Linked DNA regions of Homo sapiens. The protein of the gene in region 3 purifies or fractionates together with the protein of the main gene of each other region. This does not show direct contact. Each region holds a gene or a part of one and is shown on either strand. Other genes may lie near its edges.

Evidence for each region.
Region 1: the proteins of NOM1 (region 3) and ZFP91 purify together in Homo sapiens (affinity purification with mass spectrometry; one large-scale study listed by BioGRID and IntAct). This does not show direct contact.
Region 2: the proteins of NOM1 (region 3) and LUC7L purify together in Homo sapiens (affinity purification with mass spectrometry; one large-scale study listed by BioGRID and IntAct). This does not show direct contact.

The regions. Positions count from the first base shown.
Region 1 is NC_000011.10:58,610,063-58,613,714, reverse strand, and holds part of ZFP91 (E3 ubiquitin-protein ligase ZFP91), read right to left. Parts: intron 3,418-3,652; coding exon 3,381-3,417; intron 2,766-3,380; coding exon 2,661-2,765; intron 2,112-2,660; coding exon 1,977-2,111; intron 1,438-1,976; coding exon 1,387-1,437; intron 954-1,386; coding exon 875-953; intron 1-874. UniProt on the Homo sapiens protein: Atypical E3 ubiquitin-protein ligase that mediates 'Lys-63'-linked ubiquitination of MAP3K14/NIK, leading to stabilize and activate MAP3K14/NIK. It thereby acts as an activator of the non-canonical NF-kappa-B2/NFKB2 pathway.
Region 2 is NC_000016.10:205,425-209,076, forward strand, and holds part of LUC7L (putative RNA-binding protein Luc7-like 1), read right to left. Parts: intron 3,241-3,652; exon of another isoform or gene 3,177-3,240; intron 2,765-3,176; coding exon 2,654-2,764; intron 724-2,653; coding exon 580-723; intron 1-579. UniProt on the Homo sapiens protein: May bind to RNA via its Arg/Ser-rich domain.
Region 3 is NC_000007.14:156,952,621-156,956,272, reverse strand, and holds part of NOM1 (nucleolar MIF4G domain-containing protein 1), read right to left. Parts: intron 2,171-3,652; coding exon 1,975-2,170; intron 1-1,974. UniProt on the Homo sapiens protein: Plays a role in targeting PPP1CA to the nucleolus.

The DNA.
Region 1 (3,652 bases), on a different chromosome or scaffold from region 3:
ATAATAATCTACTCAAGAAAAATAAAAACAAAACCTCAACTAAAAGTCTTTTATTCATTCTACACAGTACCCAAGAAATCACAGGTTTGAGTTCTAATTTTACTTTTTTTCTAAATCACTTTAAAATAAAATGTTACTCTGTATTTACACCACATTGGGAATTACTGTAATATTGAAAGATTCCAACGAAAGTTCTCTATGTGGGTTCAGATTCTTAGTCACCTCTTTTTAAACAGGAGGTGCTATGAATTTGGATGTGTTCACCACAGTTCATGTGTTGGAAACTTAATCCCCAATGTGATAGTGTTGGAAGGCGGGACCTAATGGGAGGTGCTTAGGTCTTAAAGGCTCTACCCTTATATAAATGGGTTGATATTATCATTGGAGTAGATTTGTTACAAAAGCAAGTTCAACCCATTCTTGCCCTTCCACCATGGGCTGACACAGTTAAAAGGCTCTTGTGAGATGTGGGCACCATGCTTTTGGACTTTCCAGTCTCCAGAACCACAAGCTAATAAATAAATATATGTTCTTTGTAAATTACCCAGTCTCAGGTACTCTATTATAGCAGCACAAATGGACTAATCATGATTAACCCATTTATGCTGGAGGTTGCAAATGTATTTTTGTGAAAAATCAGACCTTGGTGATGACCTTGAACAGTAGGATATAAATAACTTGCCCAAGCTTAGCATTCTAATAATGGAACACTAGGCATAAATGGGTTAAAGTCATTTTATGTTTAAAGAAAGACTTTTCTTGACATTACATGTCAATGATAAAGCCTACACAAGCCAACAAATTAAAGTCTCGTGGTGCAAGAACAAGTAATGGAACACAACCTGAAAGGCTCTTATATAACAACTTCACTGACCTGCAAATAGCGAGGATGGGCAAGGACAGTTCCACATCCTTCCATCTCACAACGGACATACTGGATTGGAGGCTTTTTTCTATTATCAAAATGCAGAAGAAAAGTTAGCAAAAAAAAAAAAGTGGTACTCTGCACAGTGGCCTCTGACTTAAACTGTGCTATTGGGAATAGCTATTTTATAGTAGGAAGAATTAAAATCTCTTTACTACTATACAGATTACACAGAATTTGTATTAGAAGTAACCAAGAATTAGCAAATATTTGACAGAATTAAAAAGTAACACAAATAAACTAATGACCCCCCAAAGGTAAAGTATTAAGATTGTTAGAAATTTCAAGCTCTTACAATGAAAATAAGATCATAACACCTGTGCATCTAGGACATTAGTGAAGTTGCTTTTGTGAAATTTTTAAATAGCCATTCCTGCAGGATTATCATGAAGTCTAAATTTGTGAGTAAAGTGCCTGGTACTGGAATAAGGTGTAAAACAGTAGGGGTAAAAATTCCTCACCTCCTTTTGGGTAAACGTGGACTTTTGTCATCTTTTCGTCTTCTTCCTCTCCTGTAATTGAAGACAGGGTAACAGTAGACATATTCTGAATCAAAACTACACAGTGAAGGCTGGCTGAAGACACACACACACACACACGGCCAAAGAACAAGTGGCAAAGGATAACCAAGAATACATAAAGTCAAAGATATATCTGGCAAATCAAGCAAGTAATTTTACCCTGAAGTAATTTCACTTTCAAATCAGTCTGTAAGACAGATTAAATATATACCTTCCATAAACTATGCAATACTATGAAAGACTTAGAAGAATCTCAATGTATTACTTTTAGAGTTGCTACCATGTATCATCTAAAAACACTAAGATTAAAAAATACCTTCTCCTTGCAATAGAACTGAAAAACCTAAACATTTTTTTACTAAGAGTCTCTCCAGTGAAATTGTCAGCTGCTTGAGGCCAAATTTTTTTAAGTTAAAAAATACATATTTTGAAGCATGTATACGTCAACATCCTTCCTCACACTCCCACTCTTTTTTCCACTAGTCGTTCAAAATCTGTTAGATTTTCATTTTTAATAATTGCCTACTCACTTCCTTGGAGGTTCCTCATCCTCTCTAATTTCATTCTCCTCTTCTTTCACCTCCACCTCTACTTCCACTTTAATTTCCTTCTTCTCCTTCTCTTCTTTTACCTTCCCTGATTTTCTCCGTGGCTTTGGGGTTTCCCTGAAAACACAAATGCATTTCAATACTAGACAAAAGATCTTTTCAAGGAAGACTATGACAACAAATTAAAGCTTAGAGTTATCACTGATTTGTTATAAAACTACCTTCCTCAGTTCATGAAATGTGATTTCCTACCAATCATCCTCACATGCATAGTAATGATCCAAATATATGTATATGTTGCTCATGGAATGAACCCTCCCCAGACTAAAGATGCCTGTAAATCAAATTTCACTATAATTGTAAAGAGAAACGAGACAATTAGTTAAAAAATTCTAAGTATTCAGGCAATTCATGATACCTTGTTGAAATAAAACATGCAGACTCATAAAAACTTGTATATAATCAAAATAAAGTTCTACAAATGGGAAAGAGGATTATTATCAGGGTATATTAAGGTGTTAGACTTACAAAAGAAGTGCATAATTAATTACTCATTTAAAATTAATTCTATACCCATTAGCTTGGCAACAGATAAAATAAAAGCATGCAACAGTGCTTTCCTACTTATATTTCATTAACATGTCTGCAGTAAAATCTGAGACATGCCTTTCTAAGTGGGGTTTGTAGGTCTCATCTCTTGGATCATCTTTGAATGGTATCTCCTCTTCACTGATTAACATCTCTTCTTCCTCCTCCTCTTCCTCTTCACTACTAAAAATAAGTAAATAGAAATGAGACATTCTGGTTGTAGCGAACATGTCTGAGGGGATTTTATTTGGTAATTTTTTAAGAGGTAGCCAAACACTGATAAAGTCATCTAGCATTTTCATCCTAATGACCTAATTGGACTGAAATCTAGCTGTTTTATCACAAAGAATAATAATTGAAACTAAAAAGACATAAATCCTAGATAAAGACAGGGTGATGACAACTCAATGGCATTAAAAGTTAAGAAACAACTGACTTTGTAATACTGTCTGGTGATCTGCTATATTAAAAGACCTACTAACAGATAAATCACAACACAAAAGATTCCAATAAAATCTCAAAACCTTGGCCAAAACACCCATATTTCACATTAGTGCCTACCATGGAATAAGTCCAAACACAGAAGATACTCAAGACATGATTTCTAAGCTATGTAAGTAGATTACATGGTTTAAGTTCTAATCAAGCTCAACATGGAATCTAAATGCAGTATCAAAACTGAAGTTAATTTCTCTTACAGCTCAAAATAATTTCAAATGGAAGCAACTTCTGAATCATTTACTGTGACTATGCTATGTCCCCAAAGGTTTAAAAATGAAATATTAATGTTTTTTTTACCTAATGCCACCTGGAGACTGATGCTCTTCTCCAACATCTAGAAAAACAAAGCCAAAAACAAAATTTTATTAGTGTAGATATAAGATATTTTCTCTCTGCAGTCAAGAAATGCAAATCAAATTACTGCATGGGGTAATTATACAAAAGCAGAATATCTGCAAACTGTTCAAAGAAATACCACCTACACCATCAAACCTGCCCCTGACAGTTAAGCTGTTAACACAAATGTTCAACATTACATTTAAAATGTAACAGCAACTAGTTAGTAAACA
Region 2 (3,652 bases), on a different chromosome or scaffold from region 3:
CTAACATTTTCTGCAGACTTTGGGTGATAATGACAAGTCAACGTAGACCCACTGACTGTGGGCAGATGCTAGGAATGGAGGAGGCTGTCTGAGGAGAGGGTACATGGAGAATCTCTGTACTTTCCTCTCAATTTAGCTATGAAGCTAAAACTGCTTGCAAAAACAGCGTTTATAAATTTTTTTGAGACAGAGTCTCGCTCTGTCGCCCAGGCTGGAGTGCAGTGGCGCAATCTCAGCTCACTGCAAGCTCCGCCTCCCGGGTTCACGCCATTCTCCTTCCTCAGCCTCCGGAGCAGCTGGGACTACAGGTGCCTGGCGCCATGCCCGGCTAATTTTTTTGTATTTTTAGTAGAGACGGGGATTCGCTGTGTTAGCCAGGATGGTCTTATCTCCTGACCTCGTGATCCGCCCGCCTCGGCCTTCCAAAGTGCTGGGATGACAGGCGTGAGCCACTGTGCTGGGCCCAAAATGTATAAATTTTTTAAAAAATGGGAGCAAGCATGGGCTCAATTAATTCCAACGGTCAACGCTGCCAAATTACTAAGATTTCTCTTGCCCTAAGGCACTTATCTCACCAACCTCAGCTTCTTTTTTCTTCGCACGAACTTTTTCCACTTCCATAAGAATCTTCTGGGATTCATCCACATTACCTTCAGCCCCTAGCTGTTCGGCTTTAGCAAGGAGTTTTCCTATTTCTTCATTTAACTCATGTACTTTTTCTGCCTGTGAGGAGAAAGAATGAGGTAAGCAGACATCTGAAAATGAAAGTGAATGCAAAGGCAACAAGGGTTTCTCCTGCTCCATTTCCAGTCTGAAAATAAGTGGAAGAGCTAAAGATCCACACTTAACAATGAAGGCATCCTTACTGCCAGCATTGAGACTGTAACCATAAACGAGTCCTATGTTCCAATGAAACCAGTGGCACCTTTGTCACTTCCGACATGCTTCCAAGGATCATCACAGATTGGTCATTGTCTAGGCTGTCTCTCTTTATGACTTTTTCTTCTGGGTATGGTAATAAAATGCCTAGGTTTAAATGTACAGATTTAAGCTGTAACCAAAATACCTAATTACTAGGATTTACCTTCTGAAACAAAATAGCACCGTTGGTCAAATTAGCAATTGCATAAATCCTAAGAAATGCTTTTACAACACTGAAAAGAAAAAACAAGGAGAGGCTTAGTTCCACTGAAGAGAAAAACAGAAGAGTGATGTAAATGGCACTCAGTCTAATTACATATAAATCTACCTCCTTTTCATTCTATGATATGGATGTACCACAGTTTGACCATTTCCTTACCAATTCTTTCCAGTTTTATGTGGAGATATTAAAGTTTAAAACAACATGCAGAGGCTGGGCATGCTGGCTCACACCTGTAATCCCAGCACTTCGGGAGGACAAGGCGGGAGGATTGCTTAAGCCCAAGAGTTCCAGACCAGCTTGGGCAACAGACTCCATCTTTATTAAAAAAAAAAAAAAAAAAAAAAAAGATGGCTGGGTGCAGTGGCTCATGCCTGTAATCCCAGTACTTTGGGAAAACGAGGCGGGCAGATCACGAGGTCAAGAGATCGAGACCATCCTGGCTAACACAGTGAAACCCCGTCTCTACTAAAAATACAAAAAATTAGCTGGGCGTGGTGGTGGGCACCTGTAGTCCCAGCTACTCAGGAGGCTGAGGCAGGAGAATGGCGTAAACCCAGGAGGCGGAGCTTGCAGTGAGTCGAGATCACGCCACTGCCCTCCAGCCTGGGCGACAGAACAAGACTCTGTCTCTTAAAAAAAAAAAAAAACCGACAATAATTTTTTTTTCTTTTGAGGCAGGGTCTCACTCTGTTATCCAGGCTGAAGCAAAGTAGCATGATCACAGCTCATTGAAGCCTCAATCTCCCCAAGCTCAAGTGATCCTCCCACCTCAGCCTCCTGAGTAACTGGGATACACATGTGCACCACCAAGCCTGGCTAATATATGTATTTTTTGTAGAGATGGGGTTTCTTCATGTTGCTCAGGTCTAAAACTCCTGGGCTCAAGCAGTCTGCCCCCACCTTGGTGTCCCAAAGTGCTGGGACTACAAGCATAAGCCACCAAACTCAGCGAAGAATATATTAAAATTAAAAAATAATGATAAACCATGTACAGAGGACGAAAATGGAGAGAATAAAAAGACAGAGGTAGCAGCTCCTGAGGGATGAGAATTCCATGACACATGAATGCTTGATCACAGCCCTCTATCCTTAACTGGAGTAAGGCAGAGAGTACTGTCCACACAATCAGTGCTGAGGGTCAGTTAATAGCTATTGACAACGCCGGGCGCGGTGGCTCACGCCTGTAATCCCAGCACTTTGGGAGGCTGAGGCAGGCAGATCACGAGGTCAGGAGATCAAGACCATACCGGCTAACACGGTGAAACCCCGTCTCTACTAAAAATACAAAAAATTAGCCGGGCATGGTGGCGGGCGTCTGCAGTCCCAGCTACTCGGGAGGCTGAGGCAGGAGAATGGCATGAACCCGGGAGGCGGAGCTTGCACTGAGCTGAGATCATGCCACTGCACTCCAGCCTGGGTGACAGAGGGAGACTCCATCTCAAAAAAAAAAGCTATTGACAAGCCAGTATTTTTAAGAACACACCAGACACCGAAGCCACCCAAGCATACCTTTGCAGAAACTTCCGCACTGATTTCCTCCTGTGTTTCTGCCAGCCGCTTCTTGGCGAGCTCAGTTCTCCGATCACATTCAGCAATAAAGGACTCCAAGTGATCCATTGCCTAGCACGGGAAAAGCACAGCGCTATAATCAATGATGTGTAAAGCGTAAAGTCTTAGAACCCATTTGCTTGATAGGAAATACACTCCTAGGTTCGTTTCTTTAAAGCCTGTACATTCAAGGGAAAGATCTTAAACTACACTACCACTAACGCATTCATAATTGCATTAAATCAAGGGGATCTGTTAAACAGAATGATTGTTTGGAAGCATGGTCTTCTCATTTGATTTACTTATTTCCAAAATTTGTAAAAGGACCTCCAACCCTCAATAACATTACAAAGAAATTCTGAGGAAAATTAAAACACTTGGCAGCAATTCATAGAGTTCTCGGAGGGACAGAAAAGGCTGAGCCTAGACTCGTGCTGGAGGCCCTCTTCTGGGGAGTTGTGAGAGATGCATATGATGTACTCACTGGTCTTTGTGAGCCACGTAAATATTATTCCCTCATGTTCTGAGGGTAGGGTCCCCCCTTTCACCTCAAAAACAAAACAATAGAACAAATATTACTGAGAGCTATGAATACATTTTGTTATTGCCTACTATCTAAAGTAGCAGGAAAAATTGGTTGCTATTTACCCAAAGAGATAAAGGAAAAGAAGCTGTAGACGTCAAATTGCTTACTCTGAAAAGGGTGGTGGGAAACATTAAGAGAACTATCATATGCTAAGGTTAATTCACCATAACTAGGCAAAGGCTAACATAATTTCAGATAAAAACAGAGACAGGACCGGACGCAGTGGCTCACACCTGTAATCCCAGCACTTTGTGAGGCCAAGGTGGGCGGATCATGAGGTCAGGAGTTCAAGACCAGTCTAGCCAACATGGTCTCTAATAAAAATACAAAAATTAGCTGGGCATGATAGCGGGTGCCTGTAATCCCAGCTACTC
Region 3 (3,652 bases):
ATGCCGCCTTCAGCACAGAAGCCCCAGTGACAAGAAGGCTACTTCATTTTGGCAAATCCGTGCATCTTTTTTTTTTTTTTGAGACTGAGTCTCGCTCTGTCACCCAGGCTGGAGTGCAGTGACGCGATCTCGGCTCACTGCAAACTCCGCCTGCTGGGTTCACGCCATTCTCCTGCCTCAGTCTCCGGAGTAGCTGGGACTTCAGGCGCCCGCCACCATGCCTGGCTAATTTTTTTTTGTATTTTTAGTAGAGACGGGGTTTCACCTTTTTGGCCAGGCTGGTCTCGATCTCCTGACCTCGTGATCCACCCGCCTCGGCCTCCCAAAGTGCTGGGATTACACGAGTGAGCCACCGCGCCCGGCCGGCAAATATGTGCATCTTAAAGCAAGCTTTGGAGAGCCCCACTTGGTAAGACTCTAAATAACTGTTAAGATTATAATTGAGAGAAAGTAATATAAAAATGAAATGAATGTGACTAGCATTGCAGTAGAAAGCATGCTTGCCTAGGAGCCCAGAAAACAAGTTCTGTGTACTTTTAACAAGACGTGATCTTGGGAATTTCACATAGCGCTTCAGCGGCTTTGCCTGCTGCACTGCAAAGCAAGCTTCAGTAAAGGTCTGCCCTGATCTCACCGGGACACTTTAGGATTAAAGGTGAGGAGGAGACGAAAGTATATAAACGTACACCAGGTAATTAGACTTTTAGGGATGCTGTGCTGCTGTGGCCTATTTTTTGGAGTAGAGCTGTCAGAAGGCAAAAAACTAAGAGAACCACCATTAAAAGAGACTATCATTTAAAGATCCAAATGGGTTAAACACTGCATTTGCATGTAAATACTGTATCACGGGAAAACTAAGCCTCACTGACCCAACCCTCCATTCGTTCACCAACCTCACAACAATCTCCTTTAGTTGGACGGATTTACTTCAACACATCTGAAATCAGCTACCTTGGGGGAACTGGGATACTGACTGGGAGTGTTATGACTTTCCTGTATTCAATTAAGAGAGAACAGGCCCAGAAGAGGGCAGTGACTGTGGAACCAAGGCCATCACCAAAGAGCCTCTCTGACTTTAACCACAAGGGTTGTGGAGCAAGAAGAATACGAAAGGGATGTGGGGGTGGGGTGGACATTTACTTAGCACCTGTCGGGTGCCAGATGCTTTCTGTACACTGTTCAGTTCAATCCCAACAAAAGCCCACTTCACTGATGAGAAAGGGCCATGACACAGAAAGGGCACCAGGTCTCCCTGAACATGTCCAGGCAGTTCCATGCCCCAGTGCTCTCACATCTCCCATCAATACCAACACCTCAGTAGTGAGACCACACCAACCATTATCTTCCAAACATCTGAAATAAATCAGTGTTAAGGGAGAAGTGCAAAGGAAATGAAGGCACGTCTGAGATGTCAGTCGAGAAGAAAATTAACTAACATAAAAGACATGCTAGGCTGGACAGAACAGGGCTGGGCATGGCAGCTCCCGCCTGTAATCCCAACACATTGGGACGCCAAAGCAGGAGGATCACTGGAGCCCAGGAATTTGACACCAGCCTGGGCAACAGAGTGAGACTCCACTTCTGCTCCCACCAAAACAATTAGCCAGGCCTGGTGGTGTGCGCCTGCAGTTCCAGCTACTCTGGAGGATGAGGTGGGAGGATCACTCGAGTCTGCAGCTGTGATCGTGCCACTGCACTCCAGCCTAGACGACAGAGCGAGACCCTGTCTCAAAAAAAAAAAAAAAAAAAAGAATGGACAGAACAAAAAAGCAAAGTTAAGCAAAATCAAGTAATCAAGTACTTCCTGAATGCTCTTTACAACTACATGACATAGACAATAGAGTATTTATTCACAACAAAAAGGAATCGACACAAGAACCACCCACAGCACACAATTACGCACTTATCAAGCCTATCATTAAAATAATCACCATGAGACACTAGTGACAGCCTGGAGAAAAGGTACAACTGTACCTCGATTCCAACTGTGTGGTGAAGGATGCTGACTAAGAGAACATGCTCCATCATCAGTCTGCTGGGCATGGCCGAGGCAGTGACGCAGGCACCCATGAGAGCGGAGGTCAGGGTGTCATTCATGTCCTTTCTGCTGTGGGCCATGTACAGTTCCTCCAGCTGCCCACTGATGGAAGCCATGTTGGGTTCACTCAACCTGCAGAGAATTGTAAAGACAGAGAGCAACAATGTTTCCAATTAGGAATTTTCAGTTCAATTTTAAAAAATTAAAGAGTTATCCATACCAACAATATATTCTATTTTTATGTACACTTTTGACCCCTTAACTATTCTTATCTTGCCCCAATAACCCAGCATATATTATTCATAACCAGATAATATTCTGGAATCCCAAAACAATGTAATTGCTGTCTTTACAAGATGAAATGTGGCCACACTGAGGCATACCCTGGATTAAGTCTACAGAAACATACGTGAGGATACTCCCCTGAATATTCTGACCTGATATCCCATAGGCAGGGTCCAGCCTTAGGACGTGTTGTTAGAAAAAATGCTAACGTTTTATTTCTTAGGTGGCACAAAAATCCTTAGTTCCTAACACTAGAAAAGGCTGCTCTGTTTGAACGGGTAGTGGGGACACTACACACATATGTACGTGGAAGGTTACTCACTGTGAACCTGTGCTAATACTGAACTCGACACTGAAACAGAGGTTTATATAAATTCCCAGGATAACAGGAAACAAAAAGCAATACAAGGGGGAAGGGGGTGGGTGAGGCCATGGAGGGGCAGCAGGGGAGAGATGGTGGTGAGTTTTATCTCAATTGCAGCGGTGGTGACTCGAATCTTCATGTGATAAAACTACAGAACTGCCCCGGTGCGGTGACTCATGCCTGTAATCCCAGCACTTTCGGAGGCTGAGGCGGGCGGATCACCTGAGGTCGGGAGTTTGAGACCAGCCTGACCTACATGGAGAAATCCCGTCTCTACTAAAAATACAAAACTAGTTGGCGTGGTGGCGCATGCCTGTAATCCCAGCTACTCAGGAGGCTGAGGCAGGAGAACTGCTTGAACCTGGGAGGTGGAGGCAGAGGTTGCAGTGAGCCGAGATAGCGCCATTGCACTCCAGCCAGTGCAGCAAGAGCAAAAACTCCATCTCAAAACAAAACAAAACAAAACAAAAAAACCTACACAGAATCACATGCACACACACATCCTCAAAACCAAAGAGCTGATGGGCACGTGTAACTGACAAAGCCCCACCTGTATGGTTTCCAATCAGTTTTTTAAATGTTCTGTTCTTAAAGTGGGTAACAACAAAATGCAGACATGAGCAATGAGTAAGGGGGATGGAAGACCAGGTGAATGTGTTTCTGCAGAGAGGGGACATAAGCCAGTCCTTCCAACACTGTCCTTAGACGGACAAAGAACCTCTGCCCCTTTCCTTCCTGCTTCTCAGAATAACAATGTGAGCATTTGGGCTGCTCTCAAACCCTAAAGGGATTCAAAGTAGCCAACAGTCGGGTATCCTCTCCTTCTCGAGGTATGGGTCTCATGGGTCTCGGTGCATCAAGCCAAGAACAGAAAGGATCCAATCGACTGTCCCCATCACTTCTATTTGAATTGCTGGGATAATTCCTACATTTTAGGAAACAGACAACCTCTCTAAGTGACACAG